Homo sapiens: one gene and its partner. The protein of the gene in region 2 purifies or fractionates together with the protein of the main gene of each other region. This does not show direct contact. Each region holds a gene or a part of one and is shown on either strand. Other genes may lie near its edges.

Region 1 (8,331 bases), on a different chromosome or scaffold from region 2:
GATGGGGTCTCACCATGTTGGCCAGGATGGTCTTGATCTCTTGACCTCATGATCCACCCGCCTCGGCCTCCCCAAGTGTTGGGATTACAGGCATGAGTCGCCATGCCTGGCCTGTTTTTTTAATGTTTTGTTTCGTATTTTGAAATAAAGTCTGCATTATCAGCCAGGTGTGGTGGCTCATGCCTGTAATCCCAACACTTAGCCAAGACAGGAGGATTGCTTGAGCCCAGGAGTTCAAGACCAGCCTAGGCAACATAGTGAGACCTCATCTCTACAAAAAAATCAAAGAATTAGCTGTGGTCCCACCTACTTGGGAGGCTGAAGTGGAAGGATCATGTGAGCCCTGGAGGTTGAGGCCACTGAGCCATGGTCACACCACTGCACTCCAGCCTGGGCAACAGGGAAGCCACTATCTCAAACAAACAAAAACGTGCTTATCTACCCATATTATACAAAATCCTTGAGAATAAAATATTGTCTTAATTCTTTGGTATGACTAGTAATAACAATTACTAAAATTACTAATTATTAAATATTTTCAGTAACAGTAACAAATTATTTCAAACCTTTACTTGAATTCAAAAACACCAGAATTAAAAGAGAATCAACTCAAAGATTACGTCTTTTATTTTTTTTGAAACAGAGTCTTACTCTGCTGCCCAGGCTGGAGTGCAGTGGTGCGATCTTGACTCACTGCAACTTCTGCCTCCCAGTTTCAGCCATCCTCCAGCCTCAGCCTCCTGAGAAGGTAGGATGACAAGCATGTGCCACCACACCCAGTTAATTTTTGTATTTTTAGCAGAGTCAAGGTTTCGCCCTGTTGGCCAGGCTGGTCTTGAACTCCTGACATCAAGTGATCTGACTACCTCAGCCTCCCAAAGCACTGACATTACAGGCATGAGCCACTATGCCCAGCCAAAAATTACTTCTTGAAGACCATTTAGGCAATAAGGCATCATTGTCTTAATATAAATTGAGTTTCAATGCCTAAAAACAGTATGCTAAAATTCTGTAAAGCTTAGTGAAATTACAAAAATGCTTGGTTTTTTTGTTGATTTTTTTTTTTTGGAAACAGAGTTTCACTCTGTCACCCAGGCTAAAGTGCAGTGGCATGATCTCAGCTCACTGCAACCTCTGCCCACTAGGTTCAAGCAATTCTCCTGCCTCAGTCTCCCAAGCAGCTGGGATTACAGGCACGCGCCACCATGCTTGGCTAATTTTTTGTGTTTTTAGTGGAGATGGGCTTTTACCACGTTCGCCAGTCTGGTCTTGAACTCCTGACCTCAAGCGATCCACCTGCCTCATCCTCCCAAAGTGCTGGGATTACAGGCGTGAGTCACCACACCCGGCCGATGCTTGTTTTTTTAATTTTTTTTGAGATGTGATCTCACTCTGTCACCCAGGCTGGAGTGCAGTGGAGCAATTTCAGCTCACTACAGCCTCTCTCCTGGGCTCAAGTGATCCTCCTGCCTCAGCCTCCTGCGTAGCTGGGACTACAGCCAAGGGCATGTCACCACACTGGGCTAATTTTTAATTTTTTGAAGAGATGAGGTATCACTACATTGCCCAGGTTTGTCATGAACTCCTGGGCTCAAGCAATCCTCCCACCTTGGCCTCCCAAAATGCTGGGATTATAGGCATGAGGCACTGCACCTGGCTTCATGCCTTTTATAGAATAATATAATAAAAACATTTGATAAAAGTTTCAGAAGTCTATGAAGAGAACAGAAACCAATTTTTCAAATTGGAGATCTTCGTTAAAACTTGTCTGGATTATTTCAAGAAGTGACCATTTCTGCAAAATAACACAAGCTAGTCATTTTTTCTAACAATTTTTAAAATGCAAATTAACAGAAAAATTTTTATAGTTTAAAAATTCTAATTATAATACCCCTAACTATTAAAGCTTATAAAAGGATATGAGCATATAAAATCAAAGAGATTAAGTAGCCAAAGATCTGGGACTTGAAACTAGGGCTGTGATTCCTAACCTATTTTTACTATTATTCTACAGCAAACTATAGCATATTCTATTAAACCTTTCAAAACTAGTGCAGTGGTATGGGCAATTATAGCATAAGATTGTGACCATATTACATAATATTATAATAACTATCTATGTATAACTATATTATATAGTTAATATATTAACTATCACACCTGGGCATGGTGGCTCGCGCCTGTAATCCCAGCACTTTGGGAGGCCAAGGCAGGCAGATTGCCTGAGCTCCGGAGTTCGAGACCAGCCTAGGCAACCCGGTGAAACCCTGTCTCTACTAAAATACAAAAACTTAGCTGGGTGTGGCGGCGTGCGACTATAGTCCCAGGTACTCCGGAGGCTGAGGCAGAATTGCTTGAACCCAGGAGGCAGAGGTTGCAGTGACCTGAGATCATGCCACTGCATTCCAGTCTGGGCAACAGAACGAGACTCCATCTCCAAAATAAAAAAAGAAGATATTAACTATCACATAGCCACTTCAAAGGTTAAAGGGTAACTTTATGTCAGAAAAGTAGTGAAATAAGACTTATAAATGATGAGGGTACGTACAGGTGAGAAACAGAATTTGTACGGGAATGTAAAAGTCTAATTCGCTATCAGCATTTAGATATATAGATGACAGACAGATAGAAATTAACTGGCCAAAGAAAGACTCCTAACACAAAAAAAGCTTTCTGCAAACACCTTGGGAACAGCATGACACTAGTGAAAACAAAATGTTCTGGAATTACACGATTGATAAGATACTAGAATCTGTTGATACTTTAGGATTAGAAAACTGACATAAATTGTAAACTTGAATAAAGCCTTTCTAGATTTACCATAAAAAGACAATTCTTTGGGCTTCGTGTTCCATGTATGGTTCTCATTCTGTTAGAATAAACCCCTACTAATATGACAATTAAATAATGTAAATGTAAATAGCAGAATAATATATGCTACAGTGAGTTAACAGGTTGTTAAAAGTCAGTATTCTGGTCAGGCGCGGTGGCTCACACCTGTAAACCCAACACTCTGGGAGGCCAAAGCAAGTGGATCACCTGAGCTCAGGAGTTCGAGACCAGCCCAGCCAACATGGTGAAACCCTGTTTCTACTAAAAATACAAAAGATTAGCCGGGTGTGGTGGCGTGTGCCTGTAGTCCAATTACTTAAGAAGCTGAGGCAGGAGAATCACTTGAACCCAGTAGGTGGAGGTTGCAGTGAGCCGGGATCGAGCCACTGCACTCCAGCCTGGGCCACAAAAAAGAAAAGTCGGGATTCCACATCTGTTCTTGACTGATCCAAATATCTCCTTTTTAATACACTGTATGGAAAAATAACTGTTTTTAATTTGACACAATGTGAAAAACTAGTTTGTGAACAAATCAAGAAGTAAAATATATAAAAATAAAAGGAATAGTATATTTTAATTTTAAAAAACATTTAAGGCCGGACGGGGTGGCTCACGTGTTGCAATCCCAGCACTTTGGGAGGCCAAGGCAGTCGGATCACCTGAGGTCGGGAGTTCAAGACCAGCCTGACCAACATGGAGAAACCCCATTTCTACTAAAAATACACAATTAGCCAGGTGTGGTGGCGCATGCCTGTAATCCCAGCTACTTGGGAGGCTGAGGCAGGAGAATCGCTTGAACCCGGGGGGCAGAGGTTGCAGTGAGCCGAGACTGTGCCATTGCACTCCAGCCTGGGCAACAAGAGCAAAACTCCATCTCAAAAAAAAAAAAAATTAATGTGACACTGTCATTCCAAATTTTAAACTCATACCCTGAAGGTAAAAGAGCATTGTCAGTGGCTCCAAGAATGGGAAATAGTATTTCATATGATATTTTTGAGAGACAAGGAGAAAAAAGTCTGTATTTCACTACTACACTAAAGGTTTCATTTAATACAACTCTGGATATCTTCCTATGCTTATGCTTATGTATGTCAAAGATAATACTCCTTCCAAAAATGTCATTAAGTGCTAACATGCTGTTTCTCATAACAAAATTACCTACAATCAATTCACCTGTCACATCAGGTAGCTGGGATATTCCCCTCAATGCCAGCGCCCAGGCAAGTCTAACAGTGGCTTGGAGCCCAGGCAGTTTCCAAAGCTGTGAGTCCTGAAGACGAGAGTGAATTGTTGCAATGTACTGTTTTTCTGTCAACAGTGGAAGTTGATGAATCATATCTGAAAACACAAAAATAGACCACTTTACCGATCACCAGATAAATTCTCACTTCTGATACACAGGAATAATATCCAAAAGTCAGAAAATCTGAGCATTCTCACAGAAGAATAATGACCAATTAACATTAATTTCTACATCCCAAAAGGTACACTACTGTTGATTGTACACATACTAAAAACAAAAAAAGAAAATGACAATAATCCTAAATTTCAATTTCACTATTTTCAGTCATTTTTATAAGTGTACTACAAATAAACAAGAAAAAAGTTAGACACTCATTTTTTCTGCACATAAATTCTAAAATAGAAATCATGCTATCTAAAGATCACAAAAATTTTATTTACTTCACAGAAAACACAGATCAAAGATTACATTACTGAAATGACAGTCACTGTCTCAGAATGTTTTAATAAAAAGTTTGAAAATGTAAATGAATGGTAAAGAAACAAGCAATTAAGTAAATTAGGCATGTGCAATCATGAACATGTATAATATATGCTTTAATACTTTCCATTCCAAATCCCCCCAAAAAACAGAAATAATTAACAGGACTGCAGCTGTTTTTTAAATGTGATCTTATATATAAATATTCAAATATGAACGGACTGCAAACACAGGAACAGAGCAGACTATTTTAGTAGCTAAAATATCACCCTTTTTAAATGTTATCCCCACAATTTTAAATCTGATTTTTTTAATGTAGGAAAATGTATAAAACTCAATACCATCTCGTTCCTCTGTGCTTTGCTCTATAAAACTGATATCAAAACAGTATAGAAGCGCCATAAGAAGAGCCAGATTCACTGCATCCAGTGAGCCATTAGCCTCAACTGTCACTCTTTCCAAATGTCCAATGAGGAGGAGAGTGTCTTCTTTGCCTAAAGGTGACTGGCAAGCCCAGGCAAAAAGGCTTTCTGCAAGAGACTGCCTGCACTCCTTAATGAGATCAGAAACCTAGAAATAAAAACATGACTATCAGTATAAATAAATTACAGTGAAGCCTGGTCTTATTCCAAAGTACAAACTACCTTTTACAAAGGCTAATAAAAAAACCTATCAAAATCCACAAGTGATCCTAAGACGTCACCTCTGGAATTCTGAACAAACCCTATTGTTTATTCCTTATCCTTAAGTTCCTTAAGAAATTGGGATGACCAATTTCTTGTTCATTTCATAAAAAGAGCTAGAATGGCACATAAATGACTATACCGAAGCTGAAACAACTGCAAGTCAATTTTATGGACACAGCTGACTACAAACTTTAATATACATTACGAGCTGACTACAATTAACAATTTATTGTATACTGTACTGTCAAACAGTAGTACAGTGAATTTTGAATGTTCCCAACACAAAGAAATAATAAACGTTTGAGGTGATGGATATGCTAATTATGATTTATTACATATCATACATATGTATCAAAATACCACACTGTACCCTATACATATGTACAGTTTTGTGTCAATGAAAAATAATAAAAGCAAAAAAAAAGAAAAGTGGCAATCAGGCATGGTATCAGCTACATAATTCATCTTGAAAAAATGAACATTCTAATTGTCATGTTTCTGCCTCTGAGATTTGACAGACAACTCATGAATTGATTTCATTGAACCCTTGCCTCTTTGCGATGTTTTTCACTGCCCAAACCTCTCTCTCGCTGTAGTTTCTCAAACTCATTATTCACATCAATCTGTGACACCAGCGTAAGAACTTTATAAGTCAATCCTTGCTCCATCAGCTCATCTGTAAAGCGTGTTGTCATGGAAGCCAGCTCTGGACTGTAATGAAAAGAAATCAATAAACTACGTTAAACAATATTGTTTATGCTTCTTCATAATAATAGGTATAGCAAACGCTCTTTTTTTGAGACAGGGCCTTGCTCTGTCACCCAGGCTGGAGTGCAGTGGCGTGATCATGGCTCACTGCAGCCTTGACGTCCCAGGCTCAGGTCTTTCTCCCACCTCAGCCTCCCAGGTAGCTGGGACTGCAGGTGCATGCCATCATGCCCAGTTAATTATTCTATTTTTTGTAGAGATGGGATTTCATCATGTTGCCCAGGCTGATCTAAAACTCCTGAGCTCAAGACTGTAATCTGTAATCCCAGCACTTTGTAATCCAAAAATAATTTGGGCCACTGCACCTCGGTCCAAATTATTTTTTATTTATAAACACAATAAAACAGGTTTAAATTGTTATATCTGTCTTGGCAGAATAAGGGAGTATATTACTCAGCTTATGTTACATATTGCTCAGATTGTATATAATAAGGGAAATATTGTCATACTTCAAGTAATTTCAAATTAACCCCTGAAATCCCAAGAAGTAAAAAGACCTGAGTTCTAGGGTCCATGTCTTTCCCCGTCTAGACTGTATCAAGGCTTTCAAGGAATTCGCAATGCATCGCTTTCCATCCCAGTACAGAAGAACAGCTACTAATCCTCTGGTAAGGCCAGGAAAATGTGGCTGTTGATGCTCTCCTAAAAAAGGAAGTTGAGAAATAATATTGTTAATAAACACGTATGTGTTTAGGAGGAGACAAAAATCAATATAACAATGTTCAGTTCAAAGAATCACAGTAGCTCAGGGCTTAAGGGGCCCTGGGGTCCTCTACTACAAACATCCATCCACTGTCTAACTTCTTGCTCAACATATTCGAGGGCCATCCAACTTATCCCTAAACACCAGCAGGGACATGGAATTCACCATTTTCCAAACTCTCAATTTCTAACTCTCACACTTACCTGTGATTTCTACATACTGGGTGAGAATCTTTTGGTCTCACTGTTGTCCACTAAATTTAATTTTATTCAATGCCCATTTTACTATCTCATATGGAATCTTTCAAATATTTCTAAGTTTCTTCCCTCGGAATCTTCTCTGAATAAACAACCTTTTTATAATTCAAGTTCAGTCACCTTTTAACTACTCTCCTTTGAATGAGTTCTACCTTTTTTTTTGAGATGGAGTCTCACTCTGTCACCTAGGCTGGAGTGCAGTGGCGTGATCTCACTGCAACCTCTGCCGCCTAGGTTCAAGCAATTCTCCTGCCTTAGCCTCCTGAGTAGTTAGGATTACAGGCACTTGCCATAGCACCCAGCTAATTTTTGTATTTTTAGTAGCGATGGCATTTCACCATGTTGACCACGCTGGTCTTGAACTCCTGACCTCGTGATCCACCTGCCTTGGCCTCCCAAAGTGGTGGGATTACAGGTGTGAGCCACCACGCCTGGCTAAGTTTCACTTTTTTTTTAAGAGTACTTTGCCTATAGTTTCAGTTTCATTTCCTAAAGCTTTCTTTTCCCCTTACTGCAACTACTCCTCCACTCTACTCCTTTCTGTTCCCCAAATTCATCACCTTGCTTCACCCTCTTGCACAGGCAATTTCTTCTGCCTGGATGCCCTTCATCCTCCCAAATAACCACCTATTCCACCTGATGTATGCTTACTCATTTTGCAACATCTACCTTAAACTTCATGATGTTGTTAAGAGTTCTCTGTACAATCAAGGTCCATCTAATACCATCTCTAAATCTCTGGACCATCTCTAAATCTTGCACAAAACTGCATTAATTGTACTTAATTGTGTCAAAATATTTGTTTCCACATCATTCTCAATTATTAGAATATGAGCGTATTTACACTAGTTGAGATTTTATTCATCTTTATATCACTGGAGTGATATAATTAACACCATGCCTGGCACATGGTAGGTATAGAAGAAATGTTTGTTAAATGAAAGTTCCGAGTTAAACTCAAAACTCAAGCATGTCTAGTGAACATCCCCCTCATTCTCAATATCATACTTCTTTTAGTGCAGGCTTAGGTCAAAAAGGATTTTGGTAGCCATATATTATCTTTAGACATATTAAACTTTTGTTCAACTAACATGCCCATATTTTCTTCAAATGGCTCCTCCATTATAATTAAAACAAACTGCTTATAGTATAGAAATTTTTCTCTCTTTTCTCTACACAGCAGCCAGAGAAATAATTTCAGAGTTAGAATGAATTATGTAATGTCTCTGCTTAAAGCCCTCATCAACAACTTTCTATTGCAATTAGAATAAAATCCAAATACCTTTCATTATCATGCAAAATCAAACATGCTCTGATTCCTGCTGTATCTGCATCTTCCTTTGCTCTCCCTCTCATTTATGA
Region 2 (8,331 bases):
GCTGGGTCATCGCTCTAAATGTACACATTTGACTTTTATGTATGCAATTTGCCTTTTGGACTTCTACAATATCTCATGATCCATTTAACAAATATTTCTTAAGCATCTACTCTATGCCAGGCTCTGTGATAGATCCTAAGAAATTAAGAATAAATAATATAGAGTACTTATCTTTGGCAGAGTTTAAAGTATGGGTTAAGTGAGCATTCAACCTAAATTATCTATTCTGATTATGTACCTACTTTTAGAGAACAAGATAAAGAGTACTCTGAAAGAGTTAAAACAAATTCTGATATTTGGGAAGATAAAAAGGAGTACAAAGAAAATTTTGGAATTTAAATTTTAATCCTGCCTTTAAACCTGCCTCTACTCACCTAGCTGTGTGATCTTGAGCAAGTTGCTTAACCTTTTAAGCTTTACTTTCCTCCTATAAAACAGATGATAGTAATAACAGTATTGGCCTCCAAGAGTTGTGGAGGAATCACATGCACTAACTTACATAAAGTGTTTAGCTCAGTGTGCCTGACTGAGGTAATACATAAATAGTACCTATTACCATGAAATTAATTTTTACCGGATAGAGTTTCTTGAGGGAGAGCACATGCAAAATGCAGCTACTATTGTACTGGTCAACTATTTTCAATTCAATCACTATAAAAATTACAGACTATAAAAATTACAGAATAAATATATGAATGCTTTGACTAAAGCATCTGAGCCTTTAGATTCTAGAAAATGGCAAAACAGCATATCTGCCTTTTGGTAATCAAAGGAAATAAACATTTTCATATATAAGGATCAGTGCCCAGCATATAGCTGGTAGTTAATAAATGAACGAATGAATGATATTATGAAATAAAGTGAATTTGCAAAAGGGCCTGACCATTTTCAAACTAATCTATATAACATGATCAAGTAACAAGAAAAATATGACTTAGGATTGCAAAATGCTAGTGTTTCTTATAACAGTAACAGTCCAGCTGGGTTGGGACTTTATGTCAAAATGCTGGTACTAAAATGTATTATAATTATATCCCTTATCTGTAGGTTTTCAGGCCCTTTTGCTTTCTGTCACTTCTGGCAGTTTCTGGAGTGTTTAGGTATTATATCTTACAATAAATAAGAAGCATTTTTGGTGGACTAATTAAAAGAAATTTAAAAAGAAAAAACCATGGCCAGGTGCAATGGGTCACACCTATACAAATCCCAGTAATTTGGGAGGCTGAGGTGGGAGGATTGCTTGAGCTCAGGAATTTGAGACCAGCCTGGGCAACATAGTGAAACCCCATCTCTACACAAAATTGAAAAATTAGCCTGGCATAGTGGTGAGTGTCAATAGTCCCGGTTATCCAGATGCCTGAGGTGGGAGGATCACTTGAGCCCAGCAAGTCGAGGCTATAGTGAGCCGTGATTGCACCACTGCACTCCAGTCTTAGCAGCTGAGTGAGACCCTGTCTCAAAAACAAAGAAACAAGTAACAAAAAACCAAAAACCTTGATACTCAAGTTATCTCTAATCAACAAGGATGGAAGAATGGGAAATCAAGGGTTAAAAAAAAATACTAGCCACCCCTTATGGATGTCTCTAAGTAAAAATGAAATGTCTACTCTAGCTAGTTTACCTTTAATGTTAAAAACTGGAAACTTCATTTTTATCCCCATTGAATAAAAATCCACTTACCCCTTTTACAATGAAGAAATGGTACCTATAGTCTTTAAGTGATGTTCTTAAGTTCATGGAGGTAGGCTCTAGGAGCCTCTGTAGATGGTGGCTGCTTTAACTTCAGTTGAGAAAGAACATTTATTTTACCTATTACCATACATAATATCTCAGAACTTTTTACTAAATTGAATATTATTTAATGATTTGTATTATCCCATTGACACAATGTTTTTCCCAACTTCCTTGGGATATTATTACATTTGCTGTTAAGACAAACCCAGACATCTTACCCAAATAGAAAATCATTTCCAAATGTACAAACTAATATGGTCACATTGCAGGTCAGGCCACATACAAAATGAACTAATGGATCAGGCAATTAGACCACAGTGCCCAATAAATATGGTAATAGGAAGTTTCTTTATTTTTAATTGACCTGAATGAACAATCCGGTTGAGTGTGGATGTCAAACAAAAAAGTACCGACTTCCTTTATTTTGTAACAAAAACACTGAGGCTCTTTTAATTGCTATTTATGGACCCTTAAATAGATTTATTTTTAGTTACCATAGTGCTGATACAATGTTGTAGAGCCTAATAAATTTGAGTACCATTCATTCACTCATTCATTTGTTGAATTTAAATTGACAGGTTTTATTTCCAAATCTGCCAGTAAGTTGGTGTAGACCTTTGGCAACTCACTTCCTTTCTGATCCTCATTTTACTATTAAATTACAACATGAGATGACTTGCTAATTAACTACACCTAACAATTTACTAGACATAGAAGGGGACAAAAAATAGAATTCACTTTTCAGAAAAATCTTAAAATATAATTACATTGACAAAAGTATAGACACGGAAAATGACTCTGAGGTAATACATAAATATTTGTAAACAAACATGATGAACTAACTGTACAAAAGTAAGAGAATTGCAAAGTCAAGGAAAGATAAGTGTAGGATGGGGCTTGTCATAAAATTTCTATACAGAATGCAGCTAAATTAATTGCTTTCTTGCTTAACTATTTTGGATTTGGTCATAAATACAGTAAAGATATGAACATTTTTAGAAAGGCATCTGACCCCATTTGGATTCTAAAATATTTCAAAGATAGAATATTTGCTTTTTGGTAATCAAAGGAAATGTACGTTTCATGCATAATGTAACCATGATGCTGTACTATGGGAAAATCTGTACCTGCGATTTGGACTTTCTGTGTAACGGCTGCTTAAGTTCCTCTGGCACATGGGAAGTACTAAAAGAAGACAGCTCAGCTTCAGAATATTGATTATCTTCCATTTTCCTCATTTTGAGGCTATCTGTGAAGTGCCTTATATGATCTAGAGCAGAAAGTCCACTTTTATATTCTTCCTCTTTATACCTAAAATGAACCAACGAAAAACACAGAAATTTTCTTTTCATTTGTTATCTAATCAAATCACTTTCATTTGAATCTATCTATACAACTGACAAACTTCATATTGTATCTGCAAGGTAAAGTAGCATGCATCAATTATTGGGTTTTTATAAATACTTACAAACATCATGTCTTAAAAATATATTTCTGTTAAGATTTTTAGTAACTAAAGCCAAGCATATATTTGAGATAAAGAGTTAAAGTCAGTGACACATTAGTCAGTAATAGGCAGAGACAGAATTCATATATTCATTATTTCCATTTAAAGTAAAGCTAATTATGACAATATTTAGTCAACATCCATCATGAAAATATAATAGTCCCATCAATTTAACTGTTTGGTTATTTCTTTTCATTTAAAAAGTTATCATCTATATAGATCACATATATATCTACTGAAGTGAAGTTTATCTCAATTATACTTAACTGATGACCATGCCAGATTATTGTATAATTAGATAACGTCAAAATCTCTATTTTTCTTTGAGTTTTATAGGTAGAGTCTAACAATAAATGATTGTGTACTTATGTAATTTTCATTTTATCTTTCCCACCTCAGGTTAATCAGAGTTGCACCAAACCTGATGTATTTATATGCTTGTGGATTATGTTGATAGCCACCTTATTTTCATCTATTTAAATCTGATCCACCATGTATCCCTTACTAATTCAAGTTTAATTTTTGTGATTTATAACTCACAAATTGCTTATCACAGGAGGAATTGCAACCGTACATGGATCTACTCTAGCTTAGTTTCTAAAGTCACCCAAGGTACTCACCTCACTGGGGATGTCTTGCAACTCATCTCCAGGGCACTGGTTTCTTCATAGTCATCCTCAGGGTTTCCTTCATGTAAATTACTTGTCACTGGTTCCTTTCCTGTTTTTCCAGTAATATCATTGTCTTCATCCTCCTCATCTAACAACACCTCATCTTCAACTTCTTCATCATCCAGCAAGTCTGAATTTTGACTGGTCACCAAAGCCTTTTCATCTTTAAAATGACTGCCATTCATTCTTTCAAAAGCATTAAAAAAAAAGTCCAATTGTTGGTTTCATTTTTAAAATTGTAATTTGTTCCTTTATTATGTCTTCCCAACAACAGTTTAGATTTTCAACACTTAACATCGGAAATGTTTTATTGTTTATGCTCTACGTCAACCATGAAAAAATAATGTGACTTCACAAATGGGAAGATAAAGAAAAAAATAATTGTATGATTGTTCAGATTATAAATGAAGCCTCTGGCAGAACCCGAAAAACAATCTTGGTCTCCCATTTCTTATCAGACTTTGCTTGATAATTGATATTGCTATATATATCATATAAAAAGGCACATAAGTATGTTCTCAGCACAATTTACCTAATTGCCATGTAAGTACCCACCATTTAAAATAATAGATTTCTGGAAAATTCATATCACTCATGGGCCGTAGCTACAATACACATGCCTAAAGTGACTCTAAAAGTCCAAAGACAATGTTAAAGTAGTTACCAAGAAACAACTGGTATTTACTGATACTAGATGACATTTGTGGTACATTCCACCTAACCACTCTACCCATATTTGGAAGTAATTGACAGCTCACTTATTTGTACTATTTTCAAATTATTTTTTACAGTCTGAATGTGAAATAGTTCCTTGTTTCTCAGGAAAACGCCAGGGTGGAAAAAGCTCAGGTATTACAATGTACCCCCATCACTTTCCCACATAACAAAAATGAGTATAATTTAATATTCAGATTTCCCAGGATTAAAAAATAAATAAAACAATCTTGGATGTGACAAACACACATAGTAAAAATCCATTTGACCAGAAAAAGTCATATCATTATTAAGCTTTTAATAAAAACAATCGCTTAACCTCTTTTATCAAAGAATGGTGAAAACATCTTTTGCACAGACATAAATTAGTTTCCAAACACACTGCCAACTTGCTTGCATGAGTGGATTAAAATTTTTATTTAAAAAAAAGAAAGAAAAAGTAAAAGAACAAAAAGAGTGCATGGATGAAAATCAAAAGTAACAAAAGCCAACATAATTAAGAAAATCTATTTGTTAATTAAGTTTTCAAATGTGGCAATTTACAGAGAATAAATTATTCATCAAAAGTAGCCTGGTAGGAGTTCAGGGGAAAAACTTAGATGACTCAACCTTCTTATTTCTGTGCTGTTTAGACATGCTGAAGCCAGATGTTGCAACTATACAGGCTCACAAATCGCCAATTAAAGGCTAGAAAATTTGAATAGGCATCTCAGAACCCAAATGGTGTGTTTTGTTCAACAGTTCTTATTTGCATCAAGTAAATATCATTATCAAAGTATAAGATCGTCACTGTTTCTTGCTTGTTCTTGCTACTTTGTCCTTCTGATCATCTGCTTCCTCTCTCCCTTTCACAAACAGACAGACAGACACGCACACACACACACAAATGGGCAAGTAAAGGGAAAGGTACATCCAACTGCACACTGGTGTAGTTATCAGACTTCTCAGAGACTGGAAGGGTCTTTTTTCTTGTTTTTCTTTGATACACTTTTATACAAGTTGAAAAACAGAAGTGGTCATTTTTTTTGTTATTTTAGTAAAAAATGTTTATTTGATGTTTGCCTTGAAAAAATTACATAAAATAATTAATTTTGACTTTTGATAACATCAAAAACAGAGGACACTAATCCAATAATACTTGTATGATGAAAAATAATGGAACTTTTAACTAATTTCATGTTATTTTGAAATTTACAATGTAGCATCTGAATTTAATAGGTCACTATATAGTCGTGTTCAGAAAAGTCTACTTCTCAACAATAGATATTTAATTATAGCTTACAGATAAGAAAAATTAAATCCAGTAGTTTTGGTGAAATAGTGTTTCATTAACTTCATATGCAATGTGAAGTGCTGGGTAACTGTTAAGTATTATCATTAACAGCATTAAAAGCTTTTTTAAATGAATTAAGCTATTCATGCTTAATGTTGGTGATGATAAAAGGGAGCCAGTGCATCAGGGCAGTAAAAACAAGGATGTTCATACCCACTGAAACAAACAGACCAGAATTAAATGAGTAGTCACTTAAGAGGACATAAAGTAGCAATAGAATCTTAAGAAGACTATAAAAGCTTCTATGTAAAATATATTTGGGGGAAACTCCATGGGTATTTCATATATAAATGCATACATACATATGTACTATAATATGTATATTACATATATACAGAATATACATATATGTATTTATGTATAATACAGGTATATAGAATCATATATTACCTGTAATATATATAATTTATGATGTATAATAGTAGCCACTATTGATCAGTGATTCAACTGAATCCCTGTGACGGCTTTCTCTTCTACTTCTGAAATTTTGATAACAGATTCTATTCAGCTATCAGATAGCTAAATCCTGGTAAAATTATGGGCTCTGGAACCAGAGAGCTCAGGTTGAATCCCATTGATTACTTATGTGACCTCTGACACAATGGTTTAAGCTTCAATGTCTCCATTCCTTCACTGCTAAAATTATAGTGGCTATCTCATAGGGTTATGATGAAATTAAATTAATTAACACATGTAAAATGCTTGGAAGCATTTAATGTGGTATTTAATATGTACTAAATATATACCAGTCTTTGGTGACTGAAGTAATAGTAGTGCCACAAAAGTGAGCATAGCAAGTATATTTTAAAACATGTTCATTTCAGTCGTCACAGAGTTTAAAAAGTAAAAGACAGCTTTACCTCTCCTCCACATTCCTGGGAGATTGGCTGCCATGGTTGCTGTTCCCAATGAAATTTCGAATTTCTGTGAAGTAAGCATCTTCTTTGTCATCCAGAATCGCACCTGTACTTTCCAGTTCAGAATGAGGCGACGATGTTGCTGTACCTGTGTGGAGCAGAAAGCCTTTTATGACAAAGATTATTGTTTATCTAGCAACTTATTTGGAAACTCACTCCTTATGAATTTGATCAGTGCTGTTTCTTAAAACATGCCCTATGAATATTAATAATAATAACTTTAGAAAGTCAAAGTCTCCCCAGTTTACCATAATACACATGCCCATGACGGTCCTTTGGGAATATATTGAACCACTGAAATCATGAAGTACAGTCTCGCAAAGAAGGTGCTTCTCTCACTAGCTTTTCCTTACCTCTATTGTGACATGAGAATATTTGTATTCACATAATGAGAATTTAGAGTGAGACAAATTATGAACAAGTTTTAAATAGATTCTGCCAAGAGACACTCTATATGAAGTCCTGGTTGCAGTCAACATGCCTTTTTATTTATTTATTTATTTTTTGGCTACTATGCTAAAGCATATAACAAAATACAGTTTAAAGGCACACTGAAAATTCTGCATCCTGGTTTGCTGGGCGAAGCTGTGAGTTGACTCAGAACACTCCAGTCCAGGGGTTGGTGCAGTATTAAAAGGACAATATTAGATATGCTGATTACAGGATGATCTTCCCCTTCCTTGCCTATGCACTGCAAGACTCACAATACCCGTATCACTGGATTGGTGTAAGGCTTACATAAACTTAAACCACTTTTACACTTAAGCACTTTATATGTGGTTGAGCTTTACACCAACATTAGCTTCCTGTTGTTTATCTTGCCTACAAAGTATCTGTAATATAATAGTTCATCACAATAGTCTATATGACAAAAACAGGAGGTTAGAACATCCCCTCACCTAAAAGAGGTTACAATCTTGGTCAAAAAGTATTAACTTTGACATGTTACATGTTTAACCTTTTTTCTTAAAATAACTTTGATAAGAAAATTATAGTTGTATGCTATAAGGGTACACACAGTTAGAGTGGCCAGTTTTGCACATTGGATTATACTTCTCTACCTAAAATCTAATATTTTAAAACTATGATCATTAAATTGCTGACTTTGAGGGAGACGAACAGTATATACTTTTAAGTACTAATCAGACAAGATCATAAATAATGTGCCTTTATAGGGGAAGAAAGATTAATAATTAAAAAATTCCATAAATAAAGATTGCTAGTCTGTATTAATCCAAATTTTTTCTGTTCTTAAATCTCTTTGCCTGAATTCTGTATCTCTCCTCCCCTACCCCCAAAGCATAACCTTTATTCTCTGGAGACAAATTGTGACTGCACAGGTTGGCTCTGCACACATATGCCAGCTGGCAAATGTTACTTAATGACTTATTATCTAACTATTGGAAGCCAAAGACTAGAAAACCTACAATCCCTTCTGCTAAATATGTGCTGGCA

Evidence for each region. The genes of interacting proteins can lie anywhere in the genome.
Region 1: the proteins of MECOM (region 2) and NUP205 purify together in Homo sapiens (affinity purification with mass spectrometry, with the first as the bait; 2 studies listed by BioGRID). This does not show direct contact.

Annotation. Positions count from the first base shown.
Region 1 is NC_000007.14:135,574,590-135,582,920, reverse strand, and holds part of NUP205 (nuclear pore complex protein Nup205), read right to left. Parts: intron 6,652-8,331; coding exon 6,507-6,651; intron 5,953-6,506; coding exon 5,793-5,952; intron 5,126-5,792; coding exon 4,897-5,125; intron 4,171-4,896; coding exon 4,006-4,170; exon of another isoform or gene 3,995-4,005; intron 1-3,994. UniProt on the Homo sapiens protein: Plays a role in the nuclear pore complex (NPC) assembly and/or maintenance. May anchor NUP62 and other nucleoporins, but not NUP153 and TPR, to the NPC.
Region 2 is NC_000003.12:169,086,139-169,094,469, forward strand, and holds part of MECOM (histone-lysine N-methyltransferase MECOM), read right to left. Parts: intron 6,965-8,331; coding exon 6,820-6,964; intron 4,099-6,819; coding exon 3,862-4,098; intron 3,046-3,861; coding exon 2,862-3,045; intron 1-2,861.